3 linked regions of the Homo sapiens genome follow. The protein of the gene in region 3 interacts with the protein of the main gene of each other region in a biochemical or structural test. Each region holds a gene or a part of one and is shown on either strand. Other genes may lie near its edges. The genes, in order: TOR1AIP1, LMNA and TOR1A.

Evidence for each region.
Region 1: the proteins of TOR1A (region 3) and TOR1AIP1 form a complex in vitro, tested with the Homo sapiens proteins (2 studies listed by BioGRID and IntAct).
Region 2: the proteins of TOR1A (region 3) and LMNA form a complex in vitro, tested with the Homo sapiens proteins (one study listed by BioGRID).

The regions. Positions count from the first base shown.
Region 1 is NC_000001.11:179,880,660-179,884,481, forward strand, and holds the start of TOR1AIP1 (torsin-1A-interacting protein 1), read left to right. Parts: upstream 1-1,625; 5' UTR 1,626-1,656; coding exon of another isoform or gene 1,657-1,734; 5' UTR 1,735-1,843; coding exon 1,844-2,318; intron 2,319-3,822. Other genes in the region: uncharacterized LOC139427322, read left to right, coding at 1,657-1,734. UniProt on the Homo sapiens protein: Required for nuclear membrane integrity. Induces TOR1A and TOR1B ATPase activity and is required for their location on the nuclear membrane. Binds to A- and B-type lamins. Possible role in membrane attachment and assembly of the nuclear lamina.
Region 2 is NC_000001.11:156,131,711-156,135,310, reverse strand, and holds part of LMNA (lamin), read right to left. Parts: intron 909-3,600; coding exon 783-908; intron 507-782; coding exon 336-506; intron 125-335; coding exon 1-124.
Region 3 is NC_000009.12:129,817,481-129,821,302, forward strand, and holds part of TOR1A (torsin-1A precursor), read right to left. Parts: intron 1,441-3,822; coding exon 1,265-1,440; intron 1,168-1,264; coding exon 1,040-1,167; intron 1-1,039. UniProt on the Homo sapiens protein: Protein with chaperone functions important for the control of protein folding, processing, stability and localization as well as for the reduction of misfolded protein aggregates.

The sequences.
Region 1 (3,822 bases), on a different chromosome or scaffold from region 3:
GAAAAGAAAGAAAGAAGTCTCTCTTTTGTTACTGCAGTTTTTAAAAGCTATATTGTACATAAAGCTACAGTAAACTAAGCTCCTAACAGGCCAAACCTTATCTCACTCTAAAACTGTAATTCCTCCTGCCTGTGGCCAAATTTATGGACAATATTAGTAAAAACATAGTACACAGTCGGGCAGGGTGGCTCACGCCTGTAATCCCAGCACTTTGGGAGGCCGAGAGGCGGATCACGAGGTCAGGAGATCGAGACCATCCTGGCTAACACGGTGAAACCCTGTCTCTACTAAAAATACAAAAAAATTAGCCGGGCGTGGCGGCATGCGCCTGTAGTCCCAGCTGCTGGGGAGGCTGAAGCAGGAGAATGGCGTGAATCCGGGAGGCAGAGGTTGCAGTGAGCCGAGATCGCGCCACTGGACTCCAGCCTGGGTGACAGAGCAAGACTCCGTCTCAAAAAAAATAAAATAAAAATAAAAATAAAATAAAAACATAGTACACATTACGACTTAAGTAGTTGAAATTTGTGCCAAGTTTGAGCAACAAATGAGTTGCTCAAAAACATTTTAAGGTGATTACTTGGAAGAATAAACAAACACCTTCAAACTTTTCAGAATCGCTCATTGTAACTGGTATCCAAATTACAATTTTTTAAATCTATTCACTCCAATCATACAAAGCCCTACAAGCAGTTGTATATTTGAAGGCAATTTAAGCTTTCTTTCAATAATTATTCAGACTTTACACGAACTTAATCGACCTTCTCTGAATGTGTCTAAATTTGGTTAGGTATTTGCAGATTAGCCACATCTGTAAACATTTGTATAAGGAGGTGAAACAAATAGATTTTACCATGCTTTCTTATTCCATAAAGTCCATAAAGCATTCTAAATCAAATGTAGAGTATCACGTCACATCCAGAATAAAAGTAAAAATAATGGATCACAACTTAAAATTACAGTGCTGTCTTTAATTAAAAAACTTGTTCATTTCTCACTGTGCACAATGTAGCACTAACATGGTCTTCCGAACACTGCTGCTTGGTATAAAACCGAGAAATATTAAAGACCAGGAATAAGGTTATGTGTCCTATGGGTACATTTCGGAAAAGAAAATACATCCAACGAGTATGACTCTAGATAGGATTTTGTACACCCTCAACAAGTGACAAAATTCAAAACTAGGTAACCGCCCTCATAAGGTACTTGAAACTAAAATTTTTGCCACGAAAACATGGCATGTGCAAAAGTTCTCTCTCTGGCCATCACTCCTGCTAAGGACACTGGGAAGGACATGGTCAACGTAGCAGTCGATCAAAAAGATTCCAGGGAAACTGCGCAACAGCCTGGGGCCGAGAAGCGAAACTTGGGTCTTCTCCACCCTCGTCGCACTCCTTTTCCCCGAGACTTGGTACTGGGAGATAGGACGGGAGTCTCCTACACGCAGTCAACACTTGCCACGAGCGGCTAGACTTAGGACAGGCAAGTTGCCCTGCCATCCTTCTATCGCCCCCACCCCTCCTTTACTTAAGGGCGATGGCAGAGACGTCCTCCTCCCCCTTCTCCTCCTCTTTGGTGCCTCCAGCCAGGAGGCGGGAGCGATCCACAGCAGCTGACCCAGCTCAGGCACTGCCTCTCTCACAGCCCTCAAGACACACCATGGGCCCAGAGGCAGGTTTGCTACACAGCAGCGACGACGCAGGCGGCGGCCCCAGCGACTCGCAACTGCCTCCCTGACCACAGCGGCCACCGCCCAACACCCCCGAGAAGCCATCGCCACCACCGGCAGGAGAACCTAGGGTCCATAAAGCCATCTTCGCGATCGACTAAAGCTACGTCAACAACTATGGCGGGCGACGGGCGGCGGGCAGAGGCGGTGCGGGAAGGATGGGGTGTGTACGTCACCCCCAGGGCCCCCATCCGAGAGGGAAGGGGCCGGCTCGCCCCTCAAAATGGCGGCAGCAGCGATGCGCCTGCGTACAGAACTCCTCCGTCGCGCCAGGGCCGGCGGGAAGTGAGGTTCTCGGACGAGCCGCCAGAAGTGTACGGCGACTTCGAGCCCCTGGTGGCCAAAGAAAGGTCCCCGGTGGGAAAACGAACCCGGCTAGAAGAGTTCCGGTCCGATTCTGCGAAAGAGGAAGTGAGAGAAAGCGCGTACTACCTTCGGTCTAGGCAGCGGAGGCAGCCGCGACCCCAGGAAACCGAGGAAATGAAGACGCGAAGGACTACCCGCCTTCAGCAGCAGCACTCAGAGCAGCCTCCGCTACAGCCGTCTCCTGTTATGACCAGGAGAGGGCTGCGGGACTCTCATTCCTCTGAAGGTGAGGACCGCGGAGGTAACAGTCCCAGCCGCGAGCCAGGGAACGCGCGGGGGCGGGCGCGCGCCTCGGTGGAGCTCATGCCCGCCTGGGTACTAAGTACTGGGATTGGCTAAAGGGTATTCCTCAGCCCCCTCTGGACTTGTGCCGCCGTGCAAGGGCCACCCTGACCCGCAGCGGGGAAGGAAGCGCCGACCGGAGGAGTGGAAAGATGGTCGTGTGGAGCGACCCGGGCAGGGCTGGGGCGCTCTGCCCAACATCGGGCATCAATTTAGGGGAGTCAGAGCTGCCTTTTTCTGCAGGCCTTCACGAGGGGACAGCGAATTACTGCAGGGTCGGTTTCATTTCGGTTCCCTCTACCCTGCGGATGTTTCTACAGAAACCACTTCCATTTCCTTCTTTAACGCTCGCGGGCCAGAGTCCCCAGCTGAGGATCTAACCTTTCAGTCTTTTTCCCTCCTCACCCAGGTGGGCAGAGAGGAAGGAGAAATTTTGTGAGTGGGCATTTCGAGGGATTGCTGAGTTTAGTGAATTGATTTGAGACCTCACCCAATACTTTCACCGAAATGGGGTAACTCATTTTTCCTGAACTGATGTTCCCCAGTGTTTGATAACTTGAGCTGATTGCTGTTTCTCCAGTGTGGTGGTCCCTGCCAAAAATCTGCCACTTTGGTGGCCGTCACTGTAACCTCAAGTAGTCTGGCAAATCAGACTGACAAAGTAACCTGAAAAACAAGACTATTAATTAGAGTTTTCGTCTAAATGGACAAAAGGGATGCTGACAAAGTGAGTGTATAGTGTTAGGTAAGTCATAGGTGAATCAGTTTCCTTAATCTATCCTCTCCCACCCTGCCCCCCCCATTTTAGGACCTAACACTGAGTCACAGATGAAGTTTCATGTTAATCCCATGTAAGGCACCTGTGAGGTAAAAATCAGCGGACCTGAGTCACAATGGGATGACATAGTTTGTGGTAGACTATTGATAGGCGGAGGAGTGGGTTTTCAGCTTAGAGCACGGTGATAGGCTGCAAGTTTACCTGCTGACTCGTGAAGGTACTGACAGATTTGAAGACTTGATTTTGGAAACTTTATGTTAAAGTTATGTCAGTTATTTTTGGGTGTAGCAACTGAAGACAGTTTAGCCCATATATGTGTTAGTTTTATCTCTTTTAAGATTACAAAGTTTTTGCAGACAAGGAGCCTATAATATATTTGATAGTAATTTAAGTACTTGGTTTAATTCAGTATTTTTCAGTACCTGGAAGAATGCTTTGTACATGGTAGGCAAAAAATATGTTACATTGTATTGAGTTCCACAGAGCCTAGTGCAGTTATACAGGCTAACTTTTTTTTAACAAGTAAAGAATTTACCCCTATTTTATTAAATCTTTAAGGATCTAAACATTTTTCACTCTTCTGCTTTCTTCCACATCATTTGTGACTCTCTACCCCATCTTTTTGATTTTCTGAAGTAATATATTTTTGTAAAACAACAATGGCAAATAT
Region 2 (3,600 bases), on a different chromosome or scaffold from region 3:
GCTTCTGGAGCTGGCTGAGCTGGGCAGAGAGGCTGTCGATGCGGATGCGCGACTGCTGCAGCTCCTCGTGGGCAGCCCCCACCAGGTTGCTGTTCCTCTCAGCAGACTGCCTGGCATTGTCCAGCTGGAGGGGAGGACAAAGGGTTAGGACTGTGGTGACTGGGAGGGGTGGAGGCACAGGCCTGAGTTGGGCATCACTGCTACAGCCCCAGGTCCTGGGCCACCCTGAGCTCCCTGCCACCATCTGCCTGATCCCCAGAAGGCATAGCCCAGCGTGGGTAAGGGTAGGGCTGCCAAGGGCAGAGGCAGTGAGGGAACCAATCGAGAGCAAGCACCTTGGCAGAATAAGTCTTCTCCAGCTCCTTCTTATACTGCTCCACCTGGTCCTCATGCTGGGCCCGCAGTTCCTGCAGCGCATCCGCCAGCCGGCTCTCAAACTCACGCTGCTTCCCATTGTCAATCTCCACCAGTCGGGTCTCATGACGGCGCTTGGTCTCACGCAGCTCCTGGAAGGGTTGGAGGAAGGACACAGAAACCAAAATCAGAATTAGTTCCTGGGAGGCCAAGACCCAGGGGCGGGGCTCCCTGCCCAGCCCTACTCCATGAGCCACTACCAGCCCCACTTTAACCTGGGAGCTGAGTGCTGGCCACCCCCAACTCCCTGTCCACTAGGGCAAGGGACTCAGGAAGGCGAGCTCTGCACACAGCTGGTCCCCCCTAGCCCAGCCCAAGTCTGTCATCACCCAGCCCCAGCCCTCTGGCTTGCAAAGCACAGTCCCCACCTCACTGTAGATGTTCTTCTGGAAGTCCAGTTCCTCCTTCATGGTCTGCAGCCTGTTCTCAGCATCCACCCGCCGCAGCATCTCATCCTGAAGTTGCTTCTTGGCCTCACCTAGGGCTGCCTCAAGCTGTGAGGAAGCAGGCAGAGATGAGGAAAAGGGGTCACAGAACACAAGAACTGGAAGGAAGCTGAGAGGTGGGCTGCTGCCTGTGCACCCCTTCACACATGTGGAAACAGGTCCAGGGAAGGAGGGCCTTGGATGCCTGCAGGGGTCAGGACATCTACTCACTCACTCTTGGTAGGTACTGTGCTAAGAGAGAAAATATATATCTAATACAAAAAAGTAGCCAGGCATGATGGTGGCACACGCCTGTAGTCCCAGCTACTCAGGAGGCTGAGGCACAAGAATCGCTTGAATCCAGGAGGTGGAGGTTGCAGTGAGCCGAGATCGCACTACTGCACTCCAGCCTGGGTGACACAGCTAGACTCTGTCTCAAAAAGAAAAGATATATGCCCCCCAGCCACAGGACTCCCTTCTCTGGCACAACATAGCAACTGCTATAAAGGAGGTATGTGCAAAGTACTGAGGGGACATGAGAGAAGGAACCAAAGTATGCCTGGGGTACTTTTGGGGGGCTCTGGGAAGGCCTCCAAGAGGCTAAGACCCAAGGGACAGGCTAGCGGGGCCTACAGAGAGCTACTGTCATGATTTCAAGGGCAGAAACAAGCATGTACAGGCACAGAGGTATGAAGGCATGTGTGTTCTGGGGTCTTTGGAAAGATCAGTACTGCTGAAGCCTGAAGTACGGGGTGGGAAGGGATGGGAGAGGTGGCTGGGTCAGTAGGCAGGGGCTGGCTCATGAAGAGATGCCCTTATCTGCCATGAAAAGAACCTGAGGATGTTTGAGCAGGGGAGCACCACGCTTAGATTTTCTTTTTTTTATTTTTATTTTTTTTTTGAGATGGAGTCTCGCTCTGTCACCTAGGCTGGAGAGCAGTGGCGCGATCTCAGCTCACTGCAAGCTCTGCCTCCCAGGTTCATGCCATTCTCCTGCCTCAGTCTCCCGAGTAGCTGGGACTACAGACATGGGCCACCACACCCAGCTAATTTTTGTATCTTTAGTAGAGACAGGGTTTCACCATGTTGGCCAGGATAGTCTCGATCTCCTGACCTCGTGATCTGCCCACCTTGGCCTCCCAAAATGCTGGGATTACAGGCGTGAGCCACCACACCCAGCCGTATGCTTAGATTTTCATTTAAGAAAGCACAGGCTGGGCTAAGTGTGGTGGCTCATGCCTATAATCCCAGCACATTGGGAGGCTGAGGCAGGAAGATCTCTTGCAGCCAGGAGTTCAAGACCAGCCTCAACAACATAGAGAGAACACGTCTTGCCAGGCGTGGTGGCTCACGCCTGTAATCCCAGCACTTTGGGAGGCTGAGGCGGGCAGAACACCTAAGGTCAGGAGTTCAAGACCAGCCTGACCAACATGGTGAAACCCTGTCTCTACTAAAAATCCAAAAAGTAGCTGGGCATGGTGGTGGGCACCTGTAATCCCAGCTACTCGGGAGGCTGAGGCAGGAGAATTGCTTGAACCTGGGAGACAGAGGTTGCAGTGAGCTGAGATCGTGCCATTGCACTCCAGCCTGGGTGACAGAGTAAGACTCCATCTCAAAAAAAAAAAAAAAAAAAAGAGAGAGAGAGAGAGGAGAACATGGCTCTATTTATAAAGAAAAACAGGGCAAGGAAGCACAGGCTGATCAGTGCATCCAGGAAGGGCTGGGGGAAGGGTACAACTGGGAGGCTGGAGACCAGACCCAGGAGGAAGGTGGCCCAGCCTTGGTTCGGTGGTCAACCTGCTGGCTTCTCCAGGTCTTTCCCTGGTATACTATGATGGTAGGGCCTGGGAAGGGAAAGAACCCAGGATGGAAGCTTGGCCACTGACTCTAATCCTGGCCCCACTATGAACAGATGAGACTGTGAAATTAGGAATAAACTGCTTCTTTGATTCTTAGCTTTTATTTATTATTTATTTTTATTTTTATTTATTTATGTTTTTTTGAGATGGAGTCTCGCTCTGTTGCCTAGGCTGGAGTGCTGTGACCCGATCTTGGCTCACTGCAACCTCCACCTCCCGGGTTCAAGCGATTCTCCTGCCTCAGCCTCCCAAGTAGCTGGGATTACAGGTGGCTGCCACCATGCCTAGCTAATTTTTGTATTTGTAGTAGAGATGGGGTTTCACCATGTTGGCCAGGCTAGTCTCGAACTCCTAACCTCAGGTGATCTGCCCACCTCTGCCTCCCAAAGTGCTAGGATTACAGGCATGAGCCACCGTGCCTGGCTATTTTTTATTTTTTTTGAGATAGAGTTTTGCTCTTGTTGCCCAGGCTGGAGTGCAATGGTGCAATCTCAGTTCACCACAACCTCTGATCCTGGGTTCAAATGATTTTCCTGCCTCAGCCTCACAAGTAGTTGTTGGGACTACAGGTGTGTGCCACCACGCCTGGCTAATTTTGTATTTTTAGTAGAGACGGAGTTTAACCATGTTGGTCAGACTGGTCTCAAACTCCTGACCTCAAATGATCCACCCGCCTTGGCCTCCCAAAGTGCTGGGATTATAGGCGTGAGCCACTGCACCCAGCCCAATTCCTAGCTTTTAACATGATAAATTGGAGAAGAGTGTTTTGAAAGTAAAGGCCACTCTATATACACAAAGCATTATTAACACATGTCCCATATGTAATTAGCCATCCGCTTCTGATGGCCTCAATAAATGATCAACTCCAGTCCTCCTTTTCCCCAGAGAAATCACAAGGGCCT
Region 3 (3,822 bases):
ACGAGGTCAGGAGATAAGACCATCCTGGCTAACATGGTGAAACCCCGTTTCTACTAAAAATACAAAAAATTTGCCGAGTGTGGTGGCAGGTGCCTGTAGTCCCAGCTACTCGGCAGGCTGAGGCAGGAGAATGGTGTGAACCTGGGAGGCAGAGCTTGCAGTGAGCCGAGATCGCGCCACTGCACTCCAGCCTGGGCAACAGAGCGAGACTCCATCTCAAAAAAAAAAAAAAAACAGCAGGCCAGGTATGTAGCTCATGCCTATAATTCCAGCACTTTGGGAGGCTGAGGCGGGAGGATGACTTAAGTCCAGGAAGTCAAGACCAGCCTGGGAAACATAGGAAGACCCAGTCTCTACCAAAAAAAAAAAAAAAAAAAAAAAAAAAAATTAGCCAGGCATGGTGGCGCAAGCCTGTGGTTCCACCTACATGGGAAGCTGAGGCTGGAGGATCACTTGAGCCTAGGAAGTCAAGACTCCAGTGAGCTGAGATCACACCACTGGACTCCAGCCTGGGTGACAGAGTGAGACTCTGTCTCAAAAAATAAGCTGAGCACAGTGGCTCACGCCTGTAATCCCAGCACTTTGGGAGGCCGAGGTGGGCGGATCACCTGAGGTAAGAGTTCAAGACCAGCCTGGCCAACATGACAAAACCCCATCTCTACTAAAAATACAAATATTAGCTGGGCATGGTGTGCACCTGTAATCCCAGCTACTCAGGAGGCTGAGGCACAAGAATCGCTTGAGCCCGGGAGGCAGAGGTTGCAGTGAGGCAAGGTTACGCCACTGCACTCCAGCCTAGGTGACAGAGTAAAACTATCTGAAAAATAAAAATAAAACAGCACTTGTCAAACATTAGTGTTCATAAAAGTTACCTGGAGTTCATCAGCAAAGATTCCCCTCATGACTCGGAAGGGGACTGAGAATCTGCATTTCTTTCTACCCAGCTCCCAGGTGATGCTGACAGTGACCCTGATGCTTTTAACACTTAGGGTGCAGGATTAGGAACCAGATGGGACTGGCGGTGGATGGCCCTACTCACTGTTCTTGTTATTGAAAACCGACACAGACAACGCGTGTTCAATGTCTTTGAGCTTGATGTCTTCCCTCTGCTTTCCACTCCTCCAGAAATCCAAAGCCACATCTGTGATCCTTTCTGCTCCAGCATTGCTGCAAAACAATCCCAGTGGGTAAGGACAGGGTTTTCTCCTGGAGCTCAGAGGCTTGGGCTCGGGGCCCATCCATCATGTCCTAGCCCTGACCTTACCTGAGAAATATGAACATGGCTTTCTGGTAGGAGACCCCATCCACCAGGTCATAATAGTCGAGGAAAGGCTTGATGGCATCTATGAGGCCTGCATGCATCTTATCCATTTCATCAAATATGAAGATGGACCTCGCACAGGCACTCACGTTGCCTCGAATCCACAACTGTAACTGATCCTGAATTAAAAGGGGAAAAAGCGAACACAAAGTTCTCAGCCAGGGCCATCAATCAGCTCCTTCTACCACTAAGAACCGCAGCTTCACTTACAGACCACTGTGCACTCGGCACTAAGAACTTTACATGCCCAAAATCTTCTTTGTTCCTACCAACCCCATGGAGTGGGCACTATCGTTCTCATTTTACAGATGAGGGAACTGAGGCACAGAGAGCGCTTACTCCACTTGCCCAAGACTATATGTGGCAGAGCTGGGACCTGAACCCAGTCCTGTCTCACTCCAAAGCCCGATACTTTGGTTACGGTTCCCGCACTGCGAGATGCCACACGGATGCTGTCAGAGATGCTGCTCTTTTGTCATCAAAGGGGCAATGTGGGATGTCATGAGGATACTGATTTTTATTTAAAAAGGGGGTGGGGTCGGGCATGGTGGCTCACACCTGTAATCCCAGCACTTTGGGAGGCTGAGGCAGACGGATAAGTTGAGGTCAGGGGTTTGAGACCAGCCTGGCCAACATGGTGAAACCCCATCTCTATTAAAATACAAAAATTAGGGCCAGGCATGGTGGTTCATGCCTGTAATCCCAGCACTTTGGGAGGCCAAAGTGGGTGGATCACCTGAGGTCAGGAGTTCAAGACCAGCCTGGCCAACATGGTGAAACCTGGTCTCTACTAAAAAAAATACAAAAAAATTAGCTGGGTATGGTGGCAGGTGCTTATAGTCCCAGCTACTCAGGAGGCTGAGGTAGAATTGCATGAACCTGGGAGGCGGAGGTTGCGGTGAGCCAAGATCAAGCCATTGCACTCCAGCGTGGCGACAGAGCAAGACTCCATTAAAAAAAAAAATACAAAAATTAGCCAGGCATAGTGGCAGGCGCCTGTAATCCCAGGTACTTGGGAGGCTGAGGCTTGAGAATCGCTGGAACCTGGGAGGTGGAGGTTGCAGTGAGCTAAGATCACCCCACTGCACTCCAGCACTCCAGCCTGGGAGACAGAGCAAGACTCCGTCTCAAAAAAAAAAAATAATAATAATAATAAATAAATAAAATAAAATAAAATAAATAAATAAAATAAACAAGGATTCACTCAGACCTGTTAGGCTCCAGCAGCCAAGGTTTCTCACTCTGGTGACCAAACTTATATGCAATAACAGGGAACATGCACTGAGTGTTCACTATGGGAACAACAATATTCTAAGCACTGTTCATATAACTTTTTTTTTTTGACAGTCTCGCTCTGTTACCCAGACTGGAGTGCAATGACATGATCTCAGCTCACTGCAACCTCTGCCTCCCAGATTCAAGCGATTCCCTTGCCTCAGCCCCCTGAGTAGCTGAGACTACAGGCACCTGCCACCACGCCCAGCTAATTTTTGTATTTTTAGTAGAGATGGGGTTTCACCATCTTGGCCAGGCTGGTCTTGAACTCTTGACCTTGTGATCCACCCGCTTCGGCCTCCCAAAGTGCTGGGATTACAGGCGCGAGCCACCACACCTGGTCTGTTCATAGAACATTTTACTGTGACCTCCCAAAACCCATCACGGTAGTTACCATTGTGCTCCTTCTTTTACAAATGAGAAAACTGAGGCACAGACAAGTGAAGTAACTTTGCCCAAAGTCACAGTTATTGTTAGTGAAGCCTCAATTCTAAGATGATCAACTTATCCTGATTCGTCTAGAATGGTTCTTGTTTGTTTGGGACAGGGTCTCACTCCGTCACCCAGGCTGGACTGCAGTGGCTGTCTGCTCACTGCAGCCTCGACCTCCCAGGTTCAAGCCATCCTTCTGCCTCAGCCCCCTAAGTAGCTGGGACTACAGGTGCATGCCACCATGCCTGACTAATTTTTTTGTATTTTTTTAGTAGAGATGGGGTTTCACCATGTTCCCCAGGCTGGTCTGGAACTCTTGAGCTCAAGGGATCAGCCGGTTTTGGCTTCCCGTAGTGCTAGAATTATAGGCATGAGCCACCACACCCGTGGAACATTCGCATTTTAGTACAGAACCGCTGGACAGTGGGTGACCCACACGCTCACCCAGACAGAAGGGAAAAATGTGTTCACATTTTTCCATAGATACAGTCAGGGATAAATAACTGATTGAGGCCAGGCATGGTGGCTCATACCTGTAATTTCAGCACTTTGGGAAGTAGAGACAGCTGGATGACCTTGAGGTCAGGAGTTTGAGACCAGCCTGGCCAACAAGGTGAAACCCTGTCTCTATTAAAAATACAAAAATTAGCTGGGTGTGGTGGCAGGTGCCTGTAATACCAGCTACTTGGGAGGCTGAGGCAGCAGAATCACTTGAATCCGGGAGGCAGAGTTTGCGGTGAGCCGAGATCAAGATCCAGATGGTGCTACTGCACTCCAGCCTGGGTGACAAGAAT